3 separate regions of the Homo sapiens genome follow, and all the other regions are linked to region 2. The links come from fine-mapping of genetic effects on gene expression. A gene starts in region 2. Each other region holds a variant in brackets. All regions are shown on one strand. Distances are between the middles of the regions. Region 1 overlaps LEF1 (lymphoid enhancer binding factor 1). Region 2 holds the start of CYP2U1 (cytochrome P450 family 2 subfamily U member 1). Region 3 overlaps HADH (hydroxyacyl-CoA dehydrogenase).

Region 1 (2,761 bases), 140 kb before region 2:
GCAAAGACTTTTATTTTATAGAGGGGAATAATTTTCACTATTTAAGCTCTTAAGTTAATTTAATATTTTGCAGTTATTATGTCTGAGTTCATGCAGCCTGCTATAATAAAATACCATGGACATGGTGAGTTATAAACAACAGGTTTATTTCTCACACTTCTGGAGCCTGTGAAGTCCAGGATTAAGGTGCAGGCAGGTTTGGTGTCTGGTGAGGGCCTGGTCCCAGTCTTCTGGCTGTATCTTTGCAAGGTAGAAGAAGGGGGAAGAGAGTGCTCTGGGGTCTCTTTTATAAGGACATTAATCCCCTTCATGAGAGCTCCTTGCTTAGGCTATGATCACCTCCCAAAGACTCTCCCTCATTATACCATCACATTGGGGGTTAGAATTTCAGCATATGTATTTGGGAGAACACAACATTCAGTCTATAGTAATTCTCAGGGTCTACGTGAGACAAGCATTAGAAATGCCAGCCAGGTCAGTCTTAATAAAAGTGAAATTATTTCTTTTTAAAAGAGCAAGAGTGAAGCCGTTAATTAATATACAATTTAATATGTAGCCATTGCTTTAGGTGCTGCTGTGGGGCTCAAGTTCTCACAAGAGATGATGACAAGGATGCATATCTGAGGTCATGCACACATGGAAACTTATTTCTGGAAATGGGTTGCACAATTTATTTCCTATAATATGCTCCACAGAAAAAGTCACTTTACTGGTCAAGGTTTGGAGCTCAGACATTGGATATAAGTTTGACACAGGAAGTAAGAGTCTGTCTGTTACTTATGGGAAACAGCATAGTCAGCTCTTCTGAGTTATTTTGGTTGCCTTAATAACTACCATATGCTGATGGTTAGGAACTGTCTTAAATTCTTGACAGCAACCCAGTGGTGGAATGAATACTATTACATGAATATTATTACTCCATTTTTCAGGTGAGGAAATTGAGAGGCTGAAGAGTTTAGGTAATTTATGCAAGGCCTTGTAGTAGGTGGCTAAGCTGAAGTTTTCACCCAGGTCACTCTGACTTCAAAATCTACGTGGTTTTCCTCCTCCTGAGTGGATTAGCTCAGTCTTCCAGTACCTTCTTTTTGTTTTGTTTTGTTTTGTTTTGTTTTGTTTTGAGACAGAGATTCGCTCTTGTTGCCCAGGCTGGAATGCAATGGCATGATCTCGGCTCACCACAACCTCTGTCTCCCAGGTTTAAGCGATTCTCCAGCCTCAGCCTTCCGAGTAACTGGGATTACAGGCATGCACCACCACACCCAGCTAATTTTGTATTTTTAGTAGAGACGGGGTTTCTCCATGTTGGTCAGGCTGGTCTCGAACTCCTGACCT[G/C]AGGTGATCCGCCTGCCTCAGCCTCTCAAAGTGCTAGGATTATAAGCGTGAGCCACCACGCCCGGCCCGGTGCCTTCTTAAGACTGCTGTAGTTGAAGAATTTTCACCCCTGAGCCAGGCTTCTGTTTTCTGAGCAGCAATTACCATCTCTATATAGAGCTCCTGCCATGCCCTGTAAGTAGGAAGATCAGTGTTCACCCAGAGGGTTTCAAAAGTGTCTTCTGGCCAGCCATGGTGGCTCACGCCTGTGATCCTAGCACTTTGGAAGGCTGAGGCAGGCAGATAACTTGAGGTCAGGCATTCGAGACCAGGCTGACCAACATGGTGAAATCCTGTATCTACTAAAAGTACAAAAATTAGCTGGGCATGGTGGTGTGCGCCTGTAATCCCAGCTACTCGGGAGGCTGAGGCAGAAGAATTGCTTGAACCCGAGAGGAAGAGGTTGCAATGAGCCCAGATCGCACCACTGCACTCCAGTCTAGGTGACAAGTGCGAAACTGTCTCCAAAAAAAAAAAAAAAGGATCTTCTAATCCTGCCTTAGGTGTCTTTTGGGTGTAGTTTGTCTAAAGGGGGAGAGCTAATCTTCCTCATATGACCTTTGTAAACTTCATTGTGCTGTGAATTTTATTCAGCATTGCTTCTTGAATGCCTTTAAATTTGTTTTTCTAATTCTTAAGTAATGAGTTTTAACTTTTAAAAAGACATGAAACAAACACCTACATATTCTATCTCTTTCTCTATCTGCTCTCTCTTCTCCATGTTGATGGGTGGGAAGAAAGTAGTTTTAAAGAAAGCTACTGTAATGTGATTTATCTTTAAAGATTTCCCTCTGCACAACTTTTAAAGGAAATTGTTTTGCATATTCCTTGAATGAAGGGAAAGCCCAGCTTCGTTCATAGTGTTTTCATCATAATCAAAATAAGTCATTCAATTACTGAGGCAAACAGAAGCTGATCAATGATAGTACTTTATCTAAAGATACTGTTCTTTAAATAACAGTACTGTACAGGGATAGAATAAAGGTAAAATTAAGGCATTTAGTGCCAGAATGGTATCCTGATCCTCAGTGAGATCGTGTGAAATATATATCTCAATTATTCAGTATTAAAATACCCTATTACATGACATAGATTTATAATTTGAACTTGTTTTTTTAACTTTGGCTAATAACAGGCTAATTAATAGTGCACAAATTTTCTTGGGTGAGATTAGCCAAATATTTATAATGTTAGAACTTTTCAATTTAGTTTTTAATGCTTTCCAATATTATACAGTCCGTATAATTTTAACAAAAAAAATTTTTTGTTTTTACCATACATGAATTTTGGTTTTTGTATAACTTGACATTAATACATCCAAACTACTTAGTTCTCTTTGCCTATCATAAATGTAGATTCTCTTGAAGAACTGGTTGATATCCTAGAAGGT
Region 2 (2,756 bases):
TCATAAAGTTATGTAGCGTCAGTTTTGAAAAGTGTAGTGAAGGAAAAGTGCTTGGGCAAGGGACCTGGTTCTAACAAGGGAGGCTACCCTACTTGCAGAGGCTGTGAGAAAAGGCTTCCCCAAGGAAAAGGCATTTAACACCTGACTGATGCGTAGGAGTGACTCAGAAAAGAAGTCAGAGACCTAAGCCAGCCAGTAAGACAAAGGGGGACGGTAGAGACAGGTTAGATTGGACATTTTATTGCAGCAGATAACACGTTTTCCAACCCCCAAAAATGTCCAATTTAGACTCCCATACGCAGGAATCAGAGGCTATGAACCAAAGCCGGAGATTTGGTAATAGGCTTCTTCTGTGTTTTCTGGACTTTTTATCTTATTGGAAATTATCTTCTTAAATTCTTACATTCGAAACCCACAAGGTAAAAAGAATATCCTTCCCTCTTTCTAACATGGGGGCCAAAGTTTCTCTCCGAGGTCACAGCTGGTGGAAGGGAAGGCTACTTTTGGAAAGATGGAACCTGGCTTGCCACCTTGTCCTTCCGCCATCCCTATTACTCTCCCTCAATCTCCGGATGACTTTTCTACTTATGATCTTGGAGTATGAGCAAGTCACGCGTCCGTCACTACTTGATGGGATCTTAAAGGCATCAGAAAGGAGAAGCGCCGCCACCACCATCACCTGTTAGTTCAGGATGCAGGTGTGAGGCAGCCTGGGGGCGCGGGCGGCCGGAAGGGGCACAGGAACTGCAGCCCCCACGCACCTGGAGACTCATCCGCGGCATCCGCGTACCCACAGCCCACGACCTCCCGCTCACCCTTCTCCTTGGTCACGATGGAGATGAGCGGCACCCGCGGGCGGTCGCTGAAGACCTCGGCCTGCTGCACCAGCGCCTCGCGCACGCTGTGGAAGTCGCTGAGGACCACCACCAGGTAGTGGCCGATAAAGAAGCTGAAGATGCTGCCGTACACGCGGGCTAGGTGAGCCAGGAGCACCTGCGGGCCTATGACCGAGGGATCAATCCCTGCGGCCCTGGTCCTGCTGCTCAGCCAGCTCCGCCGCCGGAGGAAGGGAGGCAGCAGCACGTGACCGAAGTTGCCCACCAGAGGCCAGGGCGTGGGCCCGGGCGGGATGCCCCGCGCCCGGCGCCTCCGCAGCCAGCTCCAGCCCAGCAGCGCTACGAGGCCGCATAGCAGCAGCGCGCCCCCGCTGGGGTCCAGCCGCAGCAGCCCCAGAGGCGCACGCAGGAGGCGCGCGGGCCAGGGCGGGTCCTCGGCCGGCGGCTGCGACGGCCCCGGAGACGACATGGTCCGGGCGCCGGCGGCCTCGGGTTCCCCTTGCTGCCTGGAGGAGACGCGCACGCAGCTGCCTGACCCGCGGCGCCAGTGTCCTGCTCTGCTCTGGAAGGTCGGGGGCGGGCAGGGGGTGTAGGAACGCCCCCGGATTGGCTGCGCCGCGCGCATTCTCCCCGCCGCCGCCACTCAGCGACGCCTGGGCGGAACCTGGAGGCGCGCCGGCTGCCTGGCGGAGGGGGTTGGCGGGCTAGCAGGCGGGGGACCTGAAGTTTGCCCCGAAGTCCGGTTACGACCCTTTGCAGGGTCGGGCTTGGCGGTGACTGTCCCTGAAACTGGGATGCTGGCAACACAACCTTGCGCTCTGATTGGCTGTTGGTTTCCCTTGTGTCATTCGTTTGTCATTATCACTCGTTTGTCAGTTGACAAACACAAACGCATGGTTATGAAGTGCATAAACCGTGTTAGGATCTGTACTGAGTGTGGGAAACTGGTGAACAGGCCCGTGAGATGGGTCGGCCTTAGCACCTGTGCCCTGAGCTGGGAGAATGGGGTCAACGCCCTATTCCTGCATGCTTCGGTGTAGTAGTGAAAAGACGGGGTTCCTTATCTAAACTGGGATTCGCAGCACCCTTTCCTCCACGCAGAGACAGCAGGATGCTGGGAAGCCGTGGAATGCAGAATCTGTGGGTGTCGGCTTGGCAGCCAACTCTGCGGAAGGGATGATGGCGGGAGTGGGGGGAGCGAGGGGCGGGCAGCGAGGCACGAGGAGTCACGTTCTGAGAGCTTGCCCTGGGCTAGAAAACTTATGCGGAGAGCGAAAGCTGTGTCCATTCCTGCGTGTGGCCTGGGTGCATTAGAAAATGTACTTAAATCCAGAAATAGCGAAACCAGAATTTGCTTGGTGGATTTAAGTAGCTAGAAATATGAAAAGAAGATAACCGGTTGAGGGAGGGGTGGCAATATTATTATTGGTGTTAGACAACACTTGAAAGGCTGAGGTTGAAATATTAGATATGAATTGTATAATACTTTAAAAACAAAGTATTACTTTATTTTATCTTCTCAGATAATGGCTTTCCTGATAAGGGCTTCCCTTTCAGTCTTGTTTAGGCCAAATCCTGTAGTTTCTGTTCAAGTTGGATTGAGCATAGAATTGTCTGTACTGGGCCATTTTTCTAGCCGTTTCATTTTTCTCCATACATTAAAAGTTTGAACACCACGCTGTACCTATAAAAATGTGATCAAAGAAAGCATAGTGAGTCCTCAAATAAATACATGATCCATTTTATTTTTCTATAAACAAGTGATGCCAGTAGGATATGTTAAATTTCAAGTCCACTCTGTTCTCATATTCTTTTTGACATGCTTTTCATGTTATTTTAAGCTTATGCACCCCAAACAAAAAAAAAAAACCTCCACACCTCTCATCTTCTATAATTAACCACTACTTGTGAGATTACTTT
Region 3 (2,761 bases), 72 kb before region 2:
CTCATTGCTGCTGAGGCCAACCTCTTTCCTATGACAGATATGGAAGTTCATGGTTATGGCTTCCAGTTACTCCTCCTGAATAAAATCTGGGGTTCTTCAAGTTTGGATTATTCATTCACAGCTTTTGGTTACATGTTGATTTGAGGCTACAAACAGAACAAGAAGTGCTAAGTTTCTCTTGGAAGCCAGGCAGCTGCACTGGAGTATACCACAACTTGGACAGCAAGGAAGCCTTTGTACAGTTTGGGTAAAAAAATGCAGAGGTTAGAAAATGCTTCCTTTTGAATGATCAAAGGTTACAGACAAAAACACTTGGCTTCTCAGAGGTGTGTGCTTTTGATCCTCTGCCCAAGACTTGTGCTCCCCTAGGGATGGACCAAAACTACCACTTAGACCACCACGCTGCGCATGCCACTGCATTCATTCCTTCACTGACTGCAGCCTATTGACTCAACACCTGCCTTGTAAGGTGAACAAACAAAATCCCCTACTCTCAAGAGAGCTTGCACTTTTCATAAATTATCTCCTCTGATCTTCATAACTGCCTTTGGGGAAGGCACATTATTCTCACTGTCTACACGTGACAGGGAGCTCAAGCTGCCTGCTCACATGCCTTTCTTGACCCTGGAAGGCATGGCGGGGTCTGAGGGCAACAGCCTGAAACAGTACTGAGACAGGCAAGGGCCAGACTCCAGAGCCTGTGTGCCAAGTTGGGGATGGAAAACATTCCTTAACCTCAGCAGGCTGTCTCCTCATCTATAAAACAGGGGCAACAGGGTTGTTGGGAGGGTTAAATGGGTTAATACAAGTCAAAAACCTGCAGTGGTGCCTGGCACATCACAATAGCTTGCGGGTTTTTTTTTTGTTTTTTTTTTTTTTTAATTCTGGGCTGCCCCCTTCTTCTTTCTGCAAGGGTCTGAGGCCTATTGTTGGATCCAGGCACAGCCTTCTAAGGTAAACTATTTTATTTTGCTTTTGATCTCACATCTTCTGATTTCATGACTTGTTTTTCAGTTTTCATTTTCAAGTTTTCCCTTCTGTGTCCTTCTATTTTTTTACAAACGGGCTGGGATCCTGCTCCATATAAAAAGGGAGGAAGAAAAGGATCCTCCTTAATCACCTGAGGCTGGCCTTTGCTTTACCACCAAAGTCTTTAAATTACTTGGTGGCATGGTGATATGTGGAGAAACAAGCCTATAGTTGGAGTTCCTGGGTTTAAAACCTGGCTATGATTTGAATGTGTCCTCTTCAAAAGTCAGGCACTGCCAATATGATAGTATTGAGAGGTGC[G/A]GCCTTTAAGAGGAGATTAGGCCATGAGGGCTCCTCCCTCATGAATGGGATTAAAGGTTTTTATAAAAGGACTTGACGGAGAAAGTTCGTCTAGCTTTCTTCCACCTTCTGCCATGTGCAGACAGCCTTCTTCCCCCAGCAAGACACAACGAGTAGGTCTGCACCAGACACCAAAGCTGGTACCTTGATCTTGGACTTCCCAGCCTCCAGAACTATGAGAAAATAAATTTCTGTTCTTTATAAATTACCCAGTCTCAGGTATTCTGTTAATAGCAGCAAAAAAAAAAAAAAAAAAAGACTAAGACACTGATTTAGCCACTCACTCACTGTGTGACTTTGGGTGAGCTACGAAGCCTCTATGTCTTGGTTTCCTGATCTGTCATAAAGGTTAGTAACAAAGGTACCCACCTCATAAAACTGTTGTGAGGATTAAAGAAGTTAATGTGTTTAACATGCTTAGACCAGTGCCAGGCATGTGAAGGTGCACAAAGCTTGTTAGCTGCTATTTTATTCACTACACTTGGTGCTTCTACTTTCTCCTGAGCCATTAAATTCCTAAACTCTAGTAATATGGCTTATTTCAGTCTGTTAGTGCTGCTATAACAAAATACCAAAGACTGGGTAATGTATAAACAACAGAGATCAAGATCATCAGCATGTTCAGTGTCTGGTGAGGGCTGTTCTCTGCTTCCAAGATGGTGCCTTGCTGCTGCATGCTCTGGAGCAAAGGTCCCCAACCTTTTTTGGCACCAGGAAGACATGGGAGACAATTTCACGGAAGACAATTTTTCTACCGTCTTGCAGGGAAGAGGGGATGGTTTAGGGATGATTCAAGTGCATTACATTGATTGTGCACTTTATTTCTATTATTATTACATTGTAATATATAATGAAATAATTATACATCTCACCACAATACAGAATTAGTGGGAGCTCTGAGCTTGTTCTGCTGCATCTAGATGGTGCCATGTGGGGATAATGGGAGACAGTGACAGATCATCAGGCATTAGATTCTCACAAGGACACGAAACCTAGATCCCTCACATGCACAGTTCACAATAGGATTCATGCTCCTATGAGAATCTAATGCAACTCTTGATCCAACAGGAGGCAGAGCTCAGGTAGCAATGCAAGTGATGGGGAGCAGCTGTAAATACAAATGAAGTCTTGCTAGCTGCTCACATCCTTCTATGTGGCCCGGTTCCTAATGGGCCACGGACCAGAAGTTGGGGACCCCTGCTCTGGAGGGGACGAGCACTGTGTCCTCATATGGCAGAAGGGAGAAGAGGCAAAGTTGGTCTCTCAAGCCCCTTTAAATGGCACTAAGCTGTTCATGAATACAGAACCCTCATGACCTAATCACCTCCTAAAGGCCTTATCTCTTAATACTGCTGCACTGGGGATTCAGCTTCGACATAAATTTTGGAGGGAACACAAACATTCCTATCAGAGTAGCTTCTTCCACCACCAC

What was found.
Region 1: its variant is fine-mapped to the expression of CYP2U1 in whole blood (INTERVAL, PIP 0.92).
Region 3: its variant is fine-mapped to the expression of CYP2U1 in tibial nerve (GTEx, PIP 0.91).

Annotation. Positions count from the first base shown.
Region 1 is chr4:108,066,624-108,069,384 of GRCh38, reverse strand. The region is part of intron 9 of LEF1 (lymphoid enhancer binding factor 1); the gene reads left to right. Among named protein-coding and RNA genes, the nearest start is that of HADH, 78 kb to the right of the region's middle. The variant G/C (reference allele first, on the strand shown) is at 1,333.
Region 2 is chr4:107,930,193-107,932,948 of GRCh38, reverse strand. CYP2U1 (cytochrome P450 family 2 subfamily U member 1) reads right to left here and starts at 1,400. Exons shown (of 5, transcript NM_183075.3): 1 at 816-1,400. The coding sequence starts at 1,305. CYP2U1-AS1 (CYP2U1 and SGMS2 antisense RNA 1) reads left to right here and starts at 830. Exons shown (of 7, transcript NR_125929.1): 1 at 830-978. The region is part of intron 1 of LOC107986298 (a long non-coding RNA gene); the gene reads left to right. It overlaps LOC124900751 (a long non-coding RNA gene), which reads left to right and starts at 1,364. Exons shown (of 2, transcript XR_007058221.1): 1 at 1,364-1,976. RefSeq lists enhancers at 663-732, 793-862, 1,523-2,030 and a silencer at 1,073-1,662.
Region 3 is chr4:108,001,931-108,004,691 of GRCh38, reverse strand. The region is part of intron 1 of HADH (hydroxyacyl-CoA dehydrogenase); the gene reads right to left. Among named protein-coding and RNA genes, the nearest start is that of HADH, 13 kb to the right of the region's middle. The variant G/A (reference allele first, on the strand shown) is at 1,291.